Linked DNA regions of Homo sapiens: region 1 is linked to region 2. The links come from fine-mapping of genetic effects on gene expression. Tissue or cell type: whole blood. Region 2 holds a variant in brackets; the other region holds the start of a gene. All regions are shown on one strand. Distances are from middle to middle.

What was found. PIP is the estimated chance that this variant, and not a neighbour inherited with it, causes the effect.
Region 1: it holds the start of PISD, and the variant in region 2 is fine-mapped to the expression of PISD in whole blood (TOPMed, PIP above 0.99).

The regions. Positions count from the first base shown.
Region 1 is chr22:31,657,051-31,667,927 of GRCh38, reverse strand. PISD (phosphatidylserine decarboxylase) reads left to right here and starts at 5,713. Exons shown (of 8, transcript NM_001326411.2): 1 at 5,713-5,784. The coding sequence starts at 5,720. RefSeq lists enhancers at 2,446-2,947, 5,673-5,972, 6,213-6,262, 5,480-6,679, 6,653-6,792 and 2 more.
Region 2 is chr22:31,633,961-31,644,837 of GRCh38, reverse strand. All of the region lies in intron 3 of PISD (phosphatidylserine decarboxylase), which reads left to right. Among named protein-coding and RNA genes, the nearest start is that of MIR7109, 18 kb to the right of the region's middle. RefSeq lists an enhancer at 5,962-6,041 and a silencer at 10,684-10,733. The variant C/T (reference allele first, on the strand shown) is at 6,353.

The sequences.
Region 1 (10,877 bases), 23 kb before region 2:
TGGCTGCACCATTTTACATTCTCATCAGCAATGTACAAGGATTCCAGTTTTTCCCACATCCTCTCCAATGCTTGTCATCTTCCTTTTTTTTTTTTTTTTTTTGGAGATGGAGTCTTGCTCTGTCACCCAGGCTGGAGAGCAGTGGCGCAATCTCAGCTCACTGCAACCTCCGCCTTCTGGGTTCAAGTGATTCTACGGCCTCAGCCACCTGAGTAACTGGTATTACAGTTACTCGGCTCACTGCAACCTCTGCCTCCCAGGTTCAAGCGATTCTCTTGCCTCAGCCTCTTGAGTAGCTGATATTACAGTTACTCGGCTCACTGCAACCTCCGCCTCCCAGGTTCAAGCGATTCTCTTGCCTCAGCCTCCTGAGTAGCTGGGAGTACAGGCATGCACCACCACACCCAGCTAATTTTTGTATTTTTACTAGAGACAGGGTTTTACCATATTGGCCAGGCAATCTCGAACTCCTGACCTCATGATCCGCCCTCCTTGGCCTCTCAAAATGCTGGGATTACAGGTGTGAGCCACCGAGCCCAGCCCGACCAGCTAATTTTGTCTCTACTAAAAAGTAGAGACAGGGTTTCACCATGTTGGCCTGGCTGGTCTTGAACTCCTGACCTCAGGTGATCCACCCACCTTGGCCTTCCAAAGTGTTGGGATTACAGGTGTGAGCCACTGTGCCCAGCCTAAAATCAACCATTTTAAAGTGGACAATTCAGTGACATTTAGTACATTCACAACGTGGTGTACCATTTCTGTCTAATTCAGGACAAATTTTATCATCTCAAAATAAAACCTTGTTGTGCCTATCAGGTAGTTACCAATGTTTCCCAATTTTAACAGATTAAGAAATGGACTAAGACAATAGGAAAAGTGCTGGCTGGGAGCCATGGCTCACACTTGTAATCCCAACTTTTTGGGAGGTCGAGGTAAGAGGATTACTTGAGCCTAAGAGTTGGAGACCAGCCTGGGTAACATAGTGAGACCCTCATCTCTATAAAAAATACAAAATAAGCTGAGTGTGGTGGTGTGCACCCGTAATCCCAGCTACTCGGGAGGCTGAGGTGGGAGGATTGCTTGAGCCTGGGAGGTCCAGGTTGCAGTGAGCCATGATTGTGCCACTGCACTCTAGCCTGGGTGTCAGAGCAATATCCTGTCTCAAAAAAAAAAAAAAAAAAAAAGAAAAAGAAAAAGAAAAAAAGTGCTAAGGACCCACAACAAAATTTTTAATATTAAAATTAAAAAATGAGGCTGGGTGCGATGGCTCATGCCTGTAATCCCAACACTTCGGGAGGCCGAGGCAGGAGGATCACTTGAGCCCCCGAATTTGGGATCAGCCTGGCCAACATGACGAAACCCTGTCTCTCTAAACAAAAATACAAAATTTAGCCAGGCGTGGTGGCCAGTGCTTGTAATTGAAGGCACTGGAGAGGCTGAGGCAAGAGAATCGTTTGAACCCGGTAGGCGGAGATTGCAGTGAGCCGATATCGCGGGCCACTGCACTCCAGCCTGGGCCACAGAGTGAAACTCTGTCTCAAAGGAAAAAAAGGAAAAGAATATAATAATAATGAATTCAGCTTGGATTTATAAATATAAATGTGTTAATATAAAGACAATAGTCTTTATACCAATACGGTTGTAAAATAAAATTCTTAATTTTTTATGGAGAAAAGGGTCAGTCCACTGAGGCAAAAGTGCTTGGGGCTCACGAAAGCCTCGAAGCTCTGCCACTACCATCCACACTGCAAAAATCCTTTGAAAACAAAATTGAGGCAAGCTCGTTTTTTTTTTTTTTCTTGAGACGGAGTCTCGCTCTGTCGCCCAGGCTGGAGTGCAGTGGCGCTATCTCAGCTCACTGCAAGCTCTGCCTTCCGGGTTTACGCCATTCTCCTGCCTCAGCCTCCAGAGTAGCTGGGACTACAGACGCCCGCCACCACGTCCGGCTAATTTTTTTGTATTTTTAGTAGAGACGGGGTTTCACCGTGTTAGCCAGGATGGTCTCGATCTCCTGCCCTCGTGATGCGCACGTCTCCGCCTCCCAAAGTGCTGGGATTACAGGCGTGAGCCACCGCGCCCAGCCAAGCAAGCTCGTTCTTAAATGCTAGGCTAATTCTGCCCCCTAGCGGCCACAGAGAAATCTCAGAAATTAATGCCCCCAGTTGTTGAGTAATTCGCACCTACCAGGTGCCTTGAACTTACGCTGCATTATTTTGTCCTCACAATTCCATGAGGTTAAGTGATATCCAAATGTATAGATAAGCTGCCGAAGATTCGAGTGCTTAAGTCGGTTTGTTGTTGTTTTTTTTTGAGACGGGGTCTCAAAAGACAGGATCTTACGGAAGTTAATGCTGTTTCCTACTGAAGGAGGCACAGCGAGCGCAAGCCTTGGTGGGCAGGAAGCGTGCTTTAAAGTTTGAGACTGTCAGGCCCGGCGCGGTGGCTCACGCCTGTAATCCTGGCACTTTGGGAGGCCGAGGCGGGCAGACTTGAGGTCAGCAATTTGAGACCAGTCCGGCTAACATGATGAAAACCCGTTTCTACTAAAAATTCGAAAATTAGCTGGGTGTGTGGCACGCCTGTAGTCCCAGCTACTCGGAAGGCTGAGGCAGGAGAATCGCTTGAACCCGGGAGGTGGAGGCTGCAGTGAGCCGAGATCGCATCTCTGCACTCCAACCTGGGCAACAGAGTGAGGCTCTGTCTCAAAAAATAAAGTTGGAGACTTTTATTCTAAAAGCATTCAGTGAGCCATTTATTTATTTATTTTCCTGTAAGCTTGGAAAAATAGGTTCTTCCCCACCCATCTACATGACAGTAATGAGCAAATATCCTTATCAGATAATACATGATTTGCAAACATTTTCTTTCATTCTGTGGGTTGCCTTTTCTCTCTCTCTCTCTTTTTTTTAAGGCAGAGTTTCACTCTTGTTGCCCAGGCTGGAGTGCAATGGTACGATCTCGGCTCACCACAACCTCCACCTCCCATATTCAAGTGATTCTCTTGCCTCAGCCTCCCGAGTAGATGGGATTACAGGCTTGCGCCACCACATGCGGCTAATTTTTGTATTTTTACTACAGACAGGGTTTCACCACGTTGGCCAGGCTAGTCTCCAACTCCTGATCTCAGGTGATCTGCCCGCCTTGGCCTCCCAAAGTGCTGGGGTTACAGGCGTGAGACACCGCGCCCAGCGTCTTTTCACTCTCTTGATAGTGTTCTTTGATGCACAAAAGTTTTAATTTCGAAGTATATCTTTTTGTTGTTTTTGTTGTTGTTGCCTGTGCTTTTAACGTCATATACAAGAAATCATTGCTAAATCCAACGTCATGAAGATTTCCCCTATGTTTTCGTCTAAGAGTATTATAGTTTTAGCTCTTCAGTTTACATCTCTGATCCATTTTGAATGAATTTTTGTATATGGTGTAAGGCTGCACTTTACTTTTTGTATATGGATATTCAGTTTTCCCAATGCACTTCATTTGGAAATAATTTCCCCCCATTCCCTGCTGGTTTACTACTCTCAATTGGATAGTAAAACCAATTAAACCAATATGTATTTTTTTTTTAAATGGTGTCTCACTCTGTCTCCCAGGCTGGAGTGCAATGGCATTATCTCAGCTCACTGCAACCTCCCCCTCCCGGGTTCAAGCAATTCTCGTACCTCAGCCTCTGGAGTAGCTGGGATTACAGGCAGGCGCCACTATGCCCAGCTAATTTTTGTATTTTTAATAGAGATGGGGTTTCACCATGTTGGCCAGGCTGGTCTCGAACTCCTGACCTCAGGTGATCCGCCCGCCTTGGCCTCCCAAAGTGCTGGGATCATAGGGTGAGCCACGGTGCCCAGCCTCTTAAAAAAAAAAAAAAAGAGATGGAGTCTCACTATGTTGTCCAGGCTGGTCTCTTTTTTACTTCCTTTTTTTTTTTTTTTTTTTTTTTGAGACGGAGTCTCACTCTGTCACCCAGGCTGGAGTGCAATGGCGCGATCTCGGCTCGCTGCAAGTCCGCCTCCCGGGTTCACGCCATCCTCCTGCCTCAGCCTCCAGAGTAGCTGGGACTACAGGCGCCCGCCACCACGCCCGGCTAATTTTTTTTGTATTTTTAGTAGAGATGGGGTTTCATCGTGTTAGCCAGGATGGTCTCAATCTCTTGACCTCGTGATCCGCCCACCTCGGCCTCCCAAAGTGCTGAGATTACAGGCGTGAGCCACCGCGCCCGGCCCAGGCTGGTCTCAACTCCTTGGCTCAAGCTATCCTCCCACCTCAGCCTCCCAGTGAGTGGGGATTGCAGGCGTGAGCCACTGCGCCCGGCCAAAACCAATTCTATACATTTGTTTTTTTCTTTTCCGACTTTTGAAAACCATGACAAAGGGAGGTTTCTTCCCCCCAATACCAAACCTGGTGCCTTTTAAGCTCTCTGTAGGAGCTGAGTATGCCCTAGTTGAACTTAAGCCAACTACACAGAAATACCTGCAGGGACCAGGGAGCATATTCCTCCTCCTGTCAAATGCCTGGTGAAGGCAACTGTGATTATCAGCTTAGCAGATGAAAAAGTAGGGCTGCATTCCTTCAGTTGTTGGACCCAAATTCTGCCAGATTCTGACAAAGGGCTTAAAAGGAAGAATGTTTAGGCCAGGTGCGGTGGCTCACGCTTGTAATCCCAGCATTTTGAGAAGCCGAGGCGGGCGGATCACGAGGTCAGGAGATCGAGACCATCCTGGCTAACATGGTGAAACCCCGTCTCTACGAAAAATATATATAAAAAAATTAGCCGGGCGTTGTGGCGGGCGCCTGTAGTCCCAGCTACTCGGGAGGCTGAGGCAGGAGAATGGCGTCAACCCGGGAGGCGGAGCTTGCAGTGAATCGAGATCGCGCCACTGCACTCCAGCCTGGGCGACAATGAGAGACTCTGTCTCAAAAAAAAAAAAAAAAGAAGAAGATGTTTAGGACATGGTTTTTGGAGTCAGAGACGTATGTTCAAATTCTGGCTTCACTATTTTATAGTCTTTGGGCATATGCCCTTTATGTACCCTTGAAGATGTTGCTTAACCTTCCTGAGCCTCAGGTACCTCATCTTTAAAATGGGGATAATGTCTCGGGCCTAGCTGCGAGTCTCTAGTCAGTGCTCAGTAAAAAGTAGCAGACATGATTGAAAACTCGTTTTCCTCTTACAATTGAAGATAGGAACCTTTTCAAGAGCAAGCACCAGGCACCGAATTTAACGACTGGTTGCATTTCTAGGTGATCCAAGACCGTTTGCCCCCGGTCTCCCTGGCAGCACAGCGGTAGGAGATAAGAATGATATGACACCATGCTTGCAAAGTGCTCACAACACACTCCGGCGCTTAAAAAACGAGAGCTGAGTCATGGATGCCCAGTTTCCCCATCCGTAAAATGAGCAAGTTCGATCACTTGAAACGACATTCTTGGATCTTGGATGACTCAGATTTTCCAGGTACATGAGGAAAGGCACCCAGAGGGAAGGAGGAGGAGTGGCAGTGCTGCGACCAAGCCCAGGTTTAGCGAAACCTACAGCTCCACTAGTTCCCCTACCTCCGCAGGTGCCAAGCGGGTTAGGTGGGGAGTAGCCACAGGGCGGAGCTTAGTCGGCTCCGCCCCCAACCCGCGCTTTTCTCATTGGCCCACTGAACTCGAGACTCGTGACGCCTTAAGCGTGCGCCCAGCGTGTGAAGGGGGCGTGGCACGCTGAGAAGGAGCAGACAAGATGGCGACGTCCGTGGGGCACCGATGTCTGGGATTACTGCACGGGGTCGCGCCGTGGCGGAGCAGGTATAGCAGCGCGGAGAGACTACCTTGGGGCGTGGGGCAACCTGGACCAAGCTGGGGTCTGAAGAGAGATGTTTCTGTGTCGCGGGCTCGCTCTGAGGCGAGCTCGGGTGGAGACGGAGCCACCTTCACCTCGAGCTTAGGAGCAGGTGCGACTGCTCCTGCGTAGGGCGGTCCGGATTTACTTAGGGTGTGGCCTAGAAGCTCGCGCTTTGCCCTTTCCAGCTAGGTGGAAGTTCACGAGGGACAAAAATCAGATGAAATAGGCTACCTGCCCGTCTCTTGAGTCGAGGCAGGGCTTTCAGATGTTCAGATGCCATTTTCTCGTGTGTTCGTTTTCGTAGAAGGAATGATGTCCTGTGGGAAGGACACTAGATTGAGTGTCAGGCAACTTTCATTTCTGGATCTTAGTCTTTGAAGCTAGAGGGTTAGGTTAGGTAATCTCAAAACAATATGTTATGGGGCTAGAGTCTTGGTTACCCTTGTGACCCCCAGCTGTTAGATTCTTAGAAATGTGGGAGACTTGAGGGGTCTTCTGAGTCCAGCTGTCTCTCTTTGGAGTTAATGAGATTGAGGCTCCGAGAGAGGGAGGGATTTGCTCAAGTTCACCTAGCCAGTTTGTAGCAGAGCCCGGACCCCCATCAAGGTACCCCCTCACGCGACGATCTTTCTCTCAGGCTGCCCGCCGTGAGGGCAGTGGTTATACAGAAAATAGCTTAGAGCATTTGGAGTGTCGGAAAATGGATTAAAATGTAGCTGTGATTCAGAGTCGGCTGCCTGGTGTCATTTCAAAGAGCTAAGATTTGAGAGATGCGCCATACTTGTGTGTTTCCTACAGGGTTCATTTTGTCAGCGTTGATCAGAGGATAACCTATTGTTTTGGGAGGAGACGGACACTGGATTTGGACTGAGAGGGAACAGAAACCATCATTGGTCTTGTTATGAAAGCGTCACTCTTTCATCATTAACTGTACAGAAATGATTATCTCTCAGGAGAGGGCTCTGCATTGTGGTGGTAACTGTTAGAATTTGGGCAGGAGACTTTGTTTTCAATGTTATTACCAGGCGTGCTGTGTATGAGTCAACCCTGAATTCATTTAAAGTGTGTCACAGGCTGGGCGCGGTGGCTCACGCCTGTAACCTCAGCACTTTGGTAGGCCAAGGTGGGTGGATCACTTGAGGTCAGGAGTTCGAGACCAGCCTGGCCAATGTGGTGAAACCCTGTCTCTACTAAAAAATACAAAAATTAGCCGGGCATGGTGGCAGGCACCTGTAATCCCAGCTACTTGGGAGGCTGAGGCAGGAGAATTGCTTGAACCTGGGAGGCGGAGGTTGCAATAAGCCAAGACTGCGCCGCTGGAGTCCAGCCTGGGCGACAGAGTGAGACTCTGTCTCAAAAAAATTAAAAATAAATAAAGTGTGTCACGAATTGAAAGGACTAAAATGAGACTCTTAAAAAATTGTTTTTTGTTGTTGTTATTTGTTTTGGAAGTCAGAGCCTCACTCTGTTGCCCAAGAGGGAGTGCAGTGGTGTGATGATGGCTCACTGCAGCCTCCACCTCCTGGTCTCAAGCAGTTCTTCCACCTCAGCCTCCTGAGTAGCTAGGACCACAGGTGCACGCCACCCCGCCCAGCTGCATTTTTTTTGGGGGTGGGGGTGGAGACAGGGTTTCACCATGTTGCCCAGGCTGGTGTTGAACTCCTGGGCTCAAGTGATCCACCCACTTTCACCTCTCTAAGTGCTGGCATTACAGAAGTGAGCCATCGCAGTCCACCTAAAATAATTTTTTTAAATGATGAGAGGAGGCTGTACCTCAGTCACCATCATTAAAAGGGAAAGAAAAAAAGCTATGTTTTAGTACCAGTGTAGATAGATAAGGCTAGACTTAGATGCAGTGGGTGAGAGAGATGAAGATTTGGGTACAATAAGAAACCTTAATTTTCAAAGGTATTCTATATCAAGATAGAAATGATATTAATACACAAACCAAAAAGATAACATTTCTGTGGGTTTTTAGTAAACCAGTGCCTATTTGTGAGACATGTAAATGAAAACCTTATATTTCAGGTAAGTTTTTCAATAACTGGGTGATGTGTGACAGGTGATAGATAACATCTTGGGTGATAATTTAGGGCCATGTTTCCTAAACTCATTTGATAAAAGAATGGGCTGAATGGGCTGGGATGCTTGTTAGAAATAGAGATTCCTTGGGAGTCTCTCTGAGCCTGCTGTAGTTTGGGAGGCTGGCTGATTAAAAAAAACAAAGCCGGGCACGGTGGCGCATGCCTGTAATCCCAGCACTTTGGGAGGCCAAGGTGGGTGGATCATGAGGTCAGGAGATCGAGACCAGCCTGGCCAACATGCTGAAACCCCGTCTCTAACAAAAATTAGCCGGGTGTGGTGGCGTGTGTCTGTAGTCCCAACTACTCAGGAGGTTGAGGCAGGAGAATCTCCTGAACCCGGGAGGCGGAAGTTGCAGTGAGCCGAGATCACGCCACTGGACTCCAGCTTCGGCAACAGAGCAAGACTCCGTCTCAAAAAAAAAAAGATTCCAGATATGCCCCCATCCTACTGCCAATTTCAGATTCAGTAGATATAAGTTGGGGCTCTGGCAACTGTAGTTTTTACAGGTGATTCTTAGGTTCAGGCAAGTACGGACAATAGTACCTAGGAAGTAGCTTCTCGTGCATGACTTCCATCAGAAATATTTATGGCATCCCTACCACTGCAAACCACACTGTCAACGGACCATAGAGAAGGGAGAAGAGAGAAGGGAAGGGGAGCAAATGAAGAAATTAAAAACATTTGAAATAGGCCTTGTCTTCAAGGAACTTTACTATATACTTGTAATACATGGTGGAATACGGGATAAAGCCTTCAAGAGGTCTGTCCGTTCTGTTTTAGGAGAACTTTCACAGCTTTAGAAAGCAAGGGAGACATAAGGACTATAGGCAAAATGTTACTACTAGGGGTGATGTTAAAAATGTCTTAGGCCTGGGCGTGGTGTCTCATGCCTGTAATCCCAGCATTTTGGGAGGCTAAGGCGGGTGGATTGCATGAGCTCAGGAGTTCAAGACCAGCCTGGGCAACATGGCAAAAACCCATCTGTACAAAAAACACAAAAATTAGCTGGTCATAGTGGTGCATACATGTAGTCCCAGCCACCTGGGAGGCTGAGGTAGGAGGATTGCCTGAGCCCAGGAGGTTGAGGCTGCAGTGAGCCAAGATCATGCCACTGCACTCCAGCCTGGGCAACAGAGTGAGACCCTGTCTCAAAAAAAAAAAAAAAAGAAAAAGAAAAAATAGTGCAACTGGCCAGGTGTGGTGGCTTATGTCTGTAATCTCAACACTTTGGGAGGCTGAGGCAGGAGAATTGCTTGAGCCCAAGAGTTCGAGACCAACCTGAGCAACATAGTGAGACCTCCTCTCCGCAAAAAATGGCTGGGTGCACATCTGTGGTCCCAGCTACTTGGGAAGCTAAGGTGGGAGGTTCACTTGTGCCCAGGAGGTCGAGGCTGCAGTGAGCTGTGATTTCACCACTGCATTCCAGCCTGGGTGACAGAGTGAGACCCTGTCTCAAAAAACAAACAAACAAACAAACAAACTTATAACCAGGATGCCATGGAGACAGACTAGTGAGAGTGAATGCTGGTCATAGATGATTGATATGACCATCTCAGTGTATGTCAGCTGAATATCAACTCTTAATAATAACAGTCTAACTAGGTGCCAGGCCCTGAGCTAAGGTTTTGCATGATTGTCTTCTAATGAGGTGAGTTTTGTTTTTGCAGGTGGAGAAACTGAGGCTTAAGATTAGTTAAGAAATTTCCTAAGGTCACACAGCTGCTAAGAAGTGGCAGCGCTGAGATTTGAGTTGCACAGGCAGACTGGAGTGCTCAATTGTGGGCTTTAATTGCCTACTTGAAGGATGCGATGTAGAATGCATGTAGAAGAGACATCTGTTTGAACCCATCCATTCATCTTTCTGGGGCATACTGTCACTATTGAGATTGAAGGCCAGTGAGAACACAGATAAACCCCGTGTTCATCGAGGTATACATACAGTAAACAAATAACTGAATACATGCAGAATCCATTCATTTTGTGTAATAAGAAATGCCATGAAGAAAAAGAAAGCAAGATAATTAAGAAGTTAGTGCTCAACAGAAAGACAAACTTTGCATGTTCTCACTTATTTGTGGGAGCTGTAAATTAAAACGGTTGAACTCATGGAGATAGTAGAAGGATGGTTACCAGAAGCTGGAAAGGGTAGTGGGGGGATGGGAAGAAATGGGGATGGTTAATGGGTATCAAAAAAATAAAATGGGCTGGGTGCAGTGGCTCACGCCTGTAATCCCAGCACTTTGGAGGCCCAGGCGGGTGGATCACCTGAGGTCAGGAGTTCAACACCAGCGTGGCCAACAAACCCTGTCACTACTAAAACTACAAAAAAAAATTAGCCGGGTGTGGTGGTGTGCTCCTGTAATCCCAGCTACTCAGGAGGCTGAGGTAGGAGAATTCCTTGAACCTGGGAGTCAGAGGTTGCAGTGAGCTGAGATTGCGCCATTGCACTCCAGCCTGGGCAACAGAGCAAGATGCCATCTCAAAAAAATATATAAAATAAAATGAATAAGACCTAGTGTTTGCTAGCACAACAGGGTGACTATTGTCAAAAATAATTTAAAATTATTACATTTAAAAATAACTAAAAGGCTGGGTGCGGTGGCTCACGCCTGTAATCCCAGCACTTTGGGAGGCTGAGGCGGGTGGATCACGAGGTCAGGAGTTCAAGATCAGTCTGGCCAAGAAGGTGAAACCCCATCTCTACTAAAAATACAAAAAATTAGCCAGGCATGGTGGTGGGTGCCTGTAATCCCAGCTACTCGGGAGGCTGAGGCAGAGAATTGCTTGAACCCAGGAGGCGGAGGTTGCGGTGAGCTGAGATCATGCCACTGCACTCCAGCCTGGGCGACAGAGCAAAACTCCATCTCAAAAAAACAAAACAAAACACTAAAAGAGTATAACTGGATTGTTTGTAACACAAAGCTTAAATGCTTGAGGGGATAGATATCCCATTTACCTAATGTGATTATTC
Region 2 (10,877 bases):
AAAGTTTTGACTGTGACCTGTCACATGACATCAGATGTGGAATTTTCCACTTGTTGGTGTCATGTCAGCACTCAAAAAGTCTCTGATTTTGGATGTTCAGATTAGGGATACTCAACTATATACGTTTTCAGGAATGGCAACAGGTTAAGAAGGGAGAGTGTTGAATGGCTGTCTGGGGCCTGGTCCTAATCCCACCTCTGGTTCCACCTAATCACTGTCATCACAAATGAAAAATGTGAGATTTTCCAAATGTAGCTGATATCAGAATTGTTGGGGAGCTTTAAAAATTATGAATTTGAGGCTGGGCGTGGTGGCTCATGCCTGTAATCCCAGCACTTTGGGAGGCCGAGGCGGGCGGATCACGAGGTCAGGAGATCGAGACCATCCTGGTTAACATGGTGAAACCCCATCTCTACTAAAAATACAAAAAATTAGCCAGGCATGGTGGCGGGCGCCTGTAATCCCAGCTACTTGGGAGGCTGAGGCAGGAGAATGGCGTGAACCCGGGAGGTGGAGGTTGCAGTGAGCTGAGATCATGCCACTGCACTCCAGCCTGGGTGACAGAGTGAAGACTCCATCTCAAAAAAAAAAAAAAGAAAAAATTATGAATTTGAATTCCTTAACTCCTAGAAATCTACAAAGTTTGGGCTAGGTGCAAGATCTGTGTTTTCCAGGAGCCCTGTAGGTGATTCTGATGATAAGCCAGCTTGAAGAACCAAAGGCAGATGAGCCCTACCTAATGTTCCCTTCAGGGCTACAGTTTTTTGTTTTTGTTTTTGTTTTTTTTTTTGAGACGGAGACTCGCCCTGTCACCCAGGCTGGAGTGCAGTGGCGCAATCTCGGCTCACTGCAACCTCTGCCTCTTGGGTTCAAGCCATTCTCCTGCCTCAGCCTCCTGAGTAGCTGGGATTACAAGTGCCCGCCACCAGGCCTGGCTAATTTTTTGTATTTTTAGTAGAGACGGGGTTTCACCGTGTTAACCAGGATAGTCTCGATCTCCTGACTTCGTGATCTGCCTGCCTTGGCCTCCCAAAGTGCTGGGATTACAGGCATGAGCCACCATGCACAGCCACTAATTTTTGTATTTTTTTGTAGAGATGGGGTTTCACCATGTTGCCCAGGGTGGTTTTGAACTCCTTAGCTCAAGTGATTCACCCACCTTGGCCTCCCAAAGTGCTAGAATTACAGGCATGAGCCACTGTGCCGGGCCAGTTTTAGGTTTTTGTTTTGTTTTGTTTTTCAGAGACAGGGTCTTGCTGTGCTAAGGCTGGAGAGTAGTGGTGTGATCATATCTTGCTACAGCCTTGAACTCCTGGGTTCACATGTTTCTTTCACCTTAGCCTTCCCAGTAGTGGACTGTAGGTATGTGCCACTTCGCCAGGGTAGTTTTATATTTAAGTCTTTTATCCATTTTGAATTAATTTTTATTTACGGTATAAGAGAAGAATCCAACGTCATTATTTTGCATGTGGGTATCCAGTTTTCCCAGCATCATTTGTTGAAAAGATTATCCTTTCTCTATTGAATGGTCTTGGCATGCTTGTAGAAATCAGTCTTACTCCCTGTTAAATGACGGAGATGAATATAGCAAACACTATGACAGAATGTTGGAAAACAGGGGACATGATGATTCCCACGCCTTCTTGCCATGTGACTGTGATTGCTTAATCATGCGCTTTGTTTTTTATGCATTCACTTCCTGTCTTTATCTCTATTTTCTTTTTTTTTTTTTTTTGAGATGGCATTTTGCTCTTGTTGCCCAGGCTGGAGTGCAGTGGCACAATCTCTGCTCACTGCAACTTCCGCCTCCCGGGTTCAAGCAATTTTCCTGCTTCAGCCTCCCAAGTAGGTAGGATTACAGGTGTGTGCCACCACGCCTGGCTAATTTAGTATTTTTAGTAGAGACGGGGATGCTCCATGTTGGTCAAGCTGGTCTCGAACTCCCGACCTCAGGTGATCCGCCCGCCTCAGCCTCCCAAAGTGCTGGGATTACAGGTGTGAGCCACCACGCCCGGCTTTTTTTCTTTCTTTTTTTTTTTTTTTGAAACTGAGTCTCGCTCTGTCTCCCAGGCTGGAGTCCAGTGGCGTGATCTTCGCTCACTGCAACCTCTGCCTCCCGGGTTCAAGTGATTCCCCTGCCTCAGTCTCCCAAGCAGCCGGGACTACAGGTGCGCGCACCACCACGCCCAGCTAATTTTTGTATTTTTAGTAGAGATGGGGTTTCACCGTGTTGGCCAGGATGCTCTCAATTTCCTGACCTTGTGATCCACCTGCCTTGGGCCCCCAAAGTGCTGGGATTACAGGTGTGAGCTACCACACCTGTCCTTTTTTCTGTATTTTTAAATTGATTCAGCTGTTTGTTTGTTTTTTGTTTTTCTTTTTTGAGGCAGGCTCTTGCTGTGTTGCCCAGACTGGAGTGCAGTGGCACAGTCACAGCTCACTGTAGCCTTAACCTTCCGAGTTTAAGCAGTCCTCTCACCTCAGCCTCCCAAGTAGCTGGGACATGGTGCACAGGCATGCACCACCACCACACTCAGCTAATTTTTTATTTTTTGTAGAGATGGGGTCTCACTATGTTGCCTAGGCTGGTCTCAAGCGATCCTCCCACCTTGGCCTCCCAAAGTGCTGGGATTCCAGGTGTGAGCCACCCTGGAGCCACTCTTGGCTCTTCCTCAGTGGTGACAGGCGCCCAGGTCCTGAAGTCTCTGGTTGCCACTGAGGCTTTACCACCTCAGTTGATTCTGGTATACTGGTGGTCTTTGCCACCATGAATAATGTTGCAGAGCATACCTTTGCACATAAAGCCTTTTCCTCATGATGAAAGCCTACGTGTAGGATTGCTGCCTGAAAGGGTATGGACACCTTTATGGTTTGTGGCATGCATTTGGCTTCTAAAACAATCGGAGTGTTTCCCCCTTATCCAAGGTTTCATGTTCCTGCAGTCTGAAAATATTAAATGTAAATTTCCAGAAATAATTCCTAAGTTTTTAAATTTTATCATTATTATTATTATTTTTTGAGATGGCGTCTCACTCTGTCGCCCAGGCTGGAGTGCAGTGGCGCGATCTCAGCTCACTGCAACCTGCGCCTCCCGGGTTCAAGCAGTTCTCCTGCCTCAGCCTCCCGAGTAGCTGGGATTACAGGCTTGTGGCACCACACCTGGCTAATTTTTTTGTGTGTTTTTAGTAGAGATCGGGTTTCACCATTGTTGGCCAGGCTGTTCTTGAACTCTTGACCTCAGGTGATCTGCCCACCTCAGCCTCCCAAAGCTGGGATTACAGGTGTGAGCCACCGCACCTGGCCACAATTCCTAAGTTTCAAATGTCTCCCTGTTCTGAGTAGCATAATGAACTCTCTCTCTCCCACCTAGGATATGAATCCTCCCTCTGTCCATTGTGACCTCAGTGTCTATGCTGCCTGCCCATAAGTCACTTAGTAGCCATCTCAGTTACCGTATCAGCTGTCGTGGTATTCTGGTGCTTGTGTTCAGGTCACCCTTATTTGGCTTAACACTGGCCCCAAAGTGCAATAATAGCAATTCTGGCAATTTGGATTGCCGAAGAGAAAGTGGTAAAGTGCCTTCTTTAAGTGAAAATGTGAAAGTTCTGGACTTCAAAAGGAAAGAAAAAAAATCATATGCTGATTTTGATAAGATCTATGGTAAGAGTGAATCTTTTATCCGTTAGTTGAGCATGATGTCGAGGTGGGTGGATCACCTGAGGTCAGGAGTTAAGACCAGCCCGACCAACATGGTGGAACCCCTCTTCTACTAAATACAAAAAATTAGCCGGGAGTGGTGGTGCATACTTGTAATCCCAGCTACTTGGGAGGCTGAGGCAGGAGAATCGCTTGAACCCAGGAGGTGGAGGTTGCAGTGAGCCGAGATTGCGCCATTGCACTCCAGCCTGGGCAGCAAGAGTGAAACTCCATCTCAAAAAAAAAAAAAAAAAAAAAAAACACCGGGTGTGGTGGCTCATGCCTGTAATCCCAGCACTTTGGGAGGCCGAGGCGGGTGGATCACCTGAGGTCAGGAGTTCAAGACCAGCCTGGCCCACATGGTGAAACCTTGTCTCTACTAAAAATACAAAAATTAGCCAGGCGTGGCGGCAGGCACCTGTAATCCCTGCTACTCGGGAGGCTGAGGTGGGAGAATTGCTTGAACCCAGGAGGCAGAGGTTGCAGTGAGCCGAGATCGTGCCATTGTACTCCAGCCTGGTTGACAGAGCGAGACTCCGTCTCAAAAAAAAAAAAAAAAAAAAAAACAACCAAACCGAAACAAAAAGGATGTTTTTATTTTAAGTTTTTATTTCACAGAATGATGTCTCTAGAAAGGGTAGCTTGAGGCCTGGAGTGGTGGCTCATGCCTGTAATCCCAGCACTTTGGGAGACTGAGGTGGCGGATCACTTGAGCTCAGGAGTTTGAGACCAATCCGCGCAACGTGGTGAAACCTCATCTCTGCTCAAAATACAAAAATCAACCGGTGTGGTGGCATGGGCCTGTGGTCCCAGCTACTTGGGAGGCTGAGGTGGGAGGATTGCTTGAGCCAGGAGGTAGAGGTTGCAGTGAGTTGAGATTGTGCCACTGCACTCCAGCCGGGGTGACAGAGCAAGACTCTGTCTCAAAAAAAAAAAAAAAAAGTAGCTTGAAATCGTGTTCTGGAAAGCTGCTTGCTGAGCTGCTCAGGTTGAAGACCCAGAGTGTTCCTTTTAGTTCCATTTAGCCCCGTCGCGTGGAGTGTGCGCAGCTTGAATAATGCTTTTTGGCTTCCAGAGTGCTATTCCCTTGAGTCCCTGATTCAACCTGTGGCCCATCAGTGGGCAGAGGTGATTTTCTGCAGGGTACCAAGGGCACTCTTGAAGGCAGGAGCTCAGGGACTGCTGAGAAGTAGAAGAGCCGCTTCTCTGAGTTTCTTTTCAGGAACTCATGATGTCCTGGGAACATTCTTGGTTCTTGGCCTGAGTGTTCACTTGGGTTCCACAGGTGTGGCTTGTGGCTTTGGCTGTTGACATAGAGGCCTGTGCTCAGAGCCGCGGTGAGTGAGCACAGACAGAGGGTGGGTGGCTACCAGGTACAGATCTGTAGTTTATGGATCCATAGTTTATACTGCTGCAGTGGTCATATGTCCTGCCTTTGTGTGGCGGTTGTGATTTCAGATATGCTGCCTATTTGTCCCCAAAAGTCATAAAAAAAATCATTCAGCAATCATGTCATATTGCCTGTTTCCTCTTTTCCTGAAATTGACAAATACTGTTTTAGATTATATCTCAAATTTTTGGTTACAAAACATCTAATTGAAAATATACACTTTCAGCTAGGCATGGTGGCTCATGCCTGTGATCCCAACACTTTGGGAGGCTGAGGTGGGAAGATTGCTTGAGCCCAGGAGTTCATGACCAGCCTGGCAAGGCAAGACTCTGTCTCTACAAAAAAATACATTAAAAAATTAGCCAGCCTGGCCAACATGGTGAAACCCCGTCTCTACTAAAAATGCAAAAACATTTGCTGGGTGTGGTGGCGGGCGCCTGTAATCCTAGCTAATTTGGAGGCTGAGACAGGAGAATCACTTGAACCCAGCAGGCGGAGGTTGCAGTGAGCCGAGACTGCGCCATTGCACTCCAGCCTGGTCAATGAAACTCTGTCTCAAAAAAAAAAAAAAGAAAAAGGAAAAGAAAAATTAGCCAGGGGTGGTGGTGTGTGTGCCTGTGGTCCCTGTTACCTGAGAGGCTGAGACAGGAGAATCGCTTGAACCTGGGAGGCGGAGGTTGCAGTGAGCTGAGATCATGCCACTGCACTCCAGCCTGGTGACAGAGCGAGACGCTGTCTCAGGGGGAAAAAAAGGAAAAAAAAGACAGGCTCTCACTCTGTCATCCAGTCTGGAGTGCAGTGGTGTGAGCAGGGCTCACCACGGCCTCGACCTCCCAGGCTCAGGTGATCCTCCCACCTCAGCTGAAACTGCGCCATTGCACTCCAGCCTAGGCAATAAGAACGAAACTCTATCTCAAAAAAAAAAAAAAAGAAAGAAAAAAAAAATGGAAAAGAAAAGAAAAATCAGCCAGGGGTGGTGGTGTGTGCCTCTGGTCCCAGCTGCCTGAGAGGCTGAGGCAGGAAGATCTCTTGAGCCCAGGAGTTTGAGAGCAGCCTGGGCAACATAGCAAAACCATGCCTCTACAAAGAAAAAACCATTAGCTAGTAGTAGAGACAGAACTGGTTTTTGTGGCAGAGGCTAGGGAAGGATGGGGGCAGATCTCTGAGGGGAGGAGTGGCCTGCGGGTGTCCTTACTACCCGTTTTGCCTCTCTTGGGGCAGCTGTGTCATTTCCTCTCTGCCGGTCTTCTTGGCCAACAAGCGTTT[C/T]TCCCTCTTCCCTGTTCTCCCCACTTCCCCACTTCATCCCCCTTCATCCCCCCTTCCTCGCCCCTCCACAGACCCAGGGCATTTGGTGGACACTTTTGCTTGCAGTTAGGTCAAGTGGAGGTGAGTTTCCCATGGGGCAGGGGCTTGACAGCAGGGGTGGCCGTCCAGACTCTCCAGAAGGGACGTGGGGCTGCTGTTGTGACTGGACCTGCCCCACATCTTTGGGCCTGAGCTGTGCCCGGTCACAGCGTCCTGAGTTCCTTTGTGTTGCCTCTGCCCCGTGGATCTAGGTCTTGGGGGAGGGCTGGTTTCATCCTGGGGCTACCACCACCTGGCAGCAGCCCCACAGCCAAGGGCAGGCACAGCCAAAATACATCTGCCTGAGTGGCCACAGAGCAGGGCCAGGCTCTCCTGGCCCAGTGGTTTGGAGGACAGAGGGCCTGGCCCGAGGGGAGGCACTTGCTCAGCCTGCGGCTCCCACGCCAAAGGCAGGGCGGCCTCTGGGTCTGTCTGGGGCCGAGCCTTATTTCTGGAAGCACATGGATCCTCCTTCCTTGCCACTCAGTCTAAATGTTTAGGTTACAAACATTCTGAGTGAGAAATTTCAGTCAGAGCTTGTAATGTGTAGGACGTGACATTAGGGAGTGAAGAGCTTTCCTCTTCACTGATTCAAGATAGCCAGTGCCGGGTGAGGGGAGCGGGACACTTGCTTCTTCAGAAGAGTGGATCCAAAAGTTGACCTCTTCCCCAGACTGAGTCAGCATGGGAAGAGAATTGTGCTTTCACAAAAGCAGAGATGCTTTTCTGTAGCTTTCACTGTTTCTTCTTTGCTCTGGAAAATGGAGGACGAAGGAGTTCTCAGGTCCTCAGTCACTGGAGTAAAGTGACATGCACGTCCCAGCGTGAGTGCCTGAATGGGTCTCTCAGGTCTGAACAGAACAGCCCTGTGGCTGCCGCGAGCTGGTGCAGGAGGAAGTACAGAGGAGGGTCCGGTTCAGAGTGGCGTGAGACCAGGGTTAGATGACTGTTGCCAGTTTAGGGCCAGTGAGAGATTTTTAATGGTAAATATGTAACCTCTTTTAAAAAAAAACAAAAACAAACAAAAAACACAACTTTTTCTTTTTTGAGAGAGTCTTGCTCTGTTGCCCAGGCTGGAGTGTAGCGGTGTGATCACAGCTTACTGCAGCCTCAACCTCCCAGGCTCAAGCGATCCTCCCACCTCAGCCTGCTGAGTAGCTGGAATTACTGGCGTGCACCACCATGCCCGGCTAATTTTTCTATATATATATATATATATATATATATATATATATATATATATTTTTTTTTTTTTTTTTTTTTTAATTTATTTATTATTATTTTTTTTTGTAGAGTTTTGCCGTGTTGCCCAGGCAGGTCTCAACCTCCTGGGCTCAAGTGATATAGCTGCCTTGGCCTCCCAAAGTGTTGAAATTATAGGCGTGAGCTACTGCGCCCAACGAATATGTAATCTTTTTAAAAAAAGGGAAAAGGTTGGGCGCGGTGGCTCACACCTGTAATCCCAGCACTTTGGGAGACCGAGATGGGTGGATCACGAGGTCAGGAGTTCAAGACCAGCCTGGCCAACATGGTGAAACCCCGTCTCTACTAAAAATACAAAAATTAGGCTGGGCGTGGTGGCTCATGCCTGTAATCCCAGCACTTTGGGAGGCTGAGGTGGGCAGATCACAAGGTCAGGAGATCGAGACCATCCTGGCTAACACGTTGAAACCCCGTCTCTACTAAAAAAAATACAAAAAATTAGCCGGGCGTGGTGGCGGGCGCCTGTAGTCCCAGCTACTTGGGAGGCTGAGGCAGGAGAATGGTGTGAACCTGGGAGGCAGAGCTTGCAGTGAGCCGAGATCGTGCCACTGCACTCCAGACTGGGAGAGAGAGTGAGACTCCATCTCAAAAACAAAAAAAAACAAAACCCAGAAATTAGCTGGGCGTGGTGGCGGGTGCCTGTAATCCCAGCTACTTGGGAGGCTGAGGCAGGAGAATCGCTTGAACCCGGAAGGTGGTTTTATTGTTTTGAGGCATGGCCCTGGGGGCTTGTGGCAAGGGCTGAGGTGTTTGGGGAGCAGCAGTGCAGGAAAGGCCTTACTCAGCTGGGCTTGCAGGTATGCTCACTCCTGTCTGAGCGCTGCTTCCTTGTTTCTAGCCTCCGTTTAGAATAAAAAAAAAATGTATAGTACAGTATTCCAATTCATCAAAAGGAATAAAGACAGATCAGCCTGTCTGGTCTACCACCATTCAGCCTAAGCATAAGGCAGAACCCTGTGAAGTGGCCTGTGTCCTCCTTCTCTCCCTGTCCCCTTCCTGGAGCCCCATGGGCCTGTGCTCAGCACGCGTCCTGGCGCCGCGGTGTACCTGGTAGTGGGCAGTATCGGACGTGTTCTCCATGTTGGTGAGCGATGTACATGCTGTAGCTTTATTATTCTCATCTATAAATAGGGCCATTCATGCCCTCATAAAGTTGTTAAATAAGAGTGATGTGTATGTAAATACCTGGCCCCATGCTGGCAGGGAGTGGAGCTTTAGTACTATTTTACTTCTTACCTAATAGGTGTGAGTGTGGAAATGGGCAAATAGTCAAGTTGGCAGGGAAGCAGAGCCTCCTGCCTGCCCCAGTGCCACCTGAACTCCTGTAGTGTTCTTATGCCACTGGAACTGGCTGGCAGGGGCCAGCTCTGACCTCAGAGAATTGTGGGCTCACTCTAGGGCAGGAGGAGATCGCAGAGGGCGGAACGGTGGCTCATACAGCCATGCCCCCAGGTGGCCCAGGACCCACCTGGGAGCTACCTCCAATGGCTTTGAGCGGTCAGTGTGTGGACAAGCGGAGGGACCGTGTCTCAAGAATATGTGGAACTCAGCGGGGCATGGTGGCTGACGCCCGTAATCCCAGCACTTTGGGAGGCAGGCAGATCACCTGAGGTCAGGAGTTTGAGATGAGCCTGGCCAACATGGTGAAACCCCATCTCTACTAAAAATACAAAAATTAGCCCAGTGTGGTGGCAGGTACCTGTAGTCCCAGCTACTTGGGAGGCTGAGGCATGAGAATTGCTTGAACCCGGGAGGCAGAGGTTGTGGTGAGCCAAGATCATTCCACTGCACTCCAGCCTGGGGGATAGAGTCAGACTCTGTCTCCAAAAAAAAGACATGGAACTTAAACACAAGGCTAAACTTCTGGGCTGGAAGGAATCGAGGGATGGCCGACTCAAGATACCTGCAGCCCTGCATGAAGCTGTCTGCCAGGAGGCTCTACCTAAAAGCAGTTTTGTTTTGTTTTGTTTTGTTTTTTGAGACGGAGTTTTACTCTTGTTGCCCAGACTGGAGTGCAATGGCACGATCTCAATTCATTGCAACCTCCACCTCCCAGGTTCAAGCGATTCTCATGCCTCAGCCTCCTGAGTAGCTGGGATTACACGTGCGTGCCACCACACCTGAGTAATTTTGTATTTTTAGTAGAGACAGGGTTTCACCATGTTGGCCAGGCTGGTCTTGAACTCTTGACCTCAGGTGATCCGCCCACCTCAGCCTCCCAAAGTGTTGGGATTACAGGCATGAGTCACCGTGCCAGGCCTAAAAGCACTTTTTCTTTTTCTTTTTCTATTTTTTTTTTTTTTTTTTTTTGAGATGGAGTCTTGCTCTGTCACCCAGGCTGAATGCAGTGGCAATCTCAGCTCACTGCAACCTCTGCTTCCTAGGTTCAAGCGATTCTCCCACCTCAGCCTCCCGAGTAGCTGGGATTACAGGCGTGCACCACCACACCTGGCTAATTTTTGTATGTTTAGTAAAGATGGGGTTTCACCATGTTGGCCAGGCTGGTGTTGAACTTCTCACCTCAGGTGATCTGCCCACCTTGACCTCCCAAAGTGCTGGGATTACAGACACTAAGTCACCACGTCTGGCCTAAAGCACTTTTTCTGAATTCCACCCCAGTCTGCCCTTCCTGAGTGCCTGGGCAGGGCCCTTGGGGAGCTGCTGGTGGGGCTCTGAATGTGCCAGGGGTATCCGGGACATCTTGCAGGCTAGTGGGACTGCCAAAAACGATTCTCAAAGATGAGTGGGGAGTTGGGCAGGGATAGGAGAATCTGGTGTGTAGAGAAATAGCCTGAAGGCACTTTGTGCTTGCCTGGCCTCTCTGCCCAGACGTTGGGGAGGCTGATGCCTGCCTGTGGTTTCTTGTACTAGCCGTTAAGACCCCAGCCATCTTCCTTGAGGGGCTTCTGCCAGCCCCCAGGGAATGAGAATTAGCCAAGAGCCAGGAAATGAGAATTAGCTGAGGACACCTTTTACCCCTGTTCCGCAGCTACCTTCTGTTCCCTGGCACAGGGCATCCCCTTAGAAGTAGTGCATGAAATTCACACAGCTGGGACCTGGCAGAGAATACAGGTGGCTTGACTGAGGCAGGGAGGCCTCCATCTGCAGGTGGCCTGAGAGCCTGCAGAGCCTCACAGTGGCACTAGGTGGCACTCCCACCCAAGGGAGTCCTAACAGAGTGGGA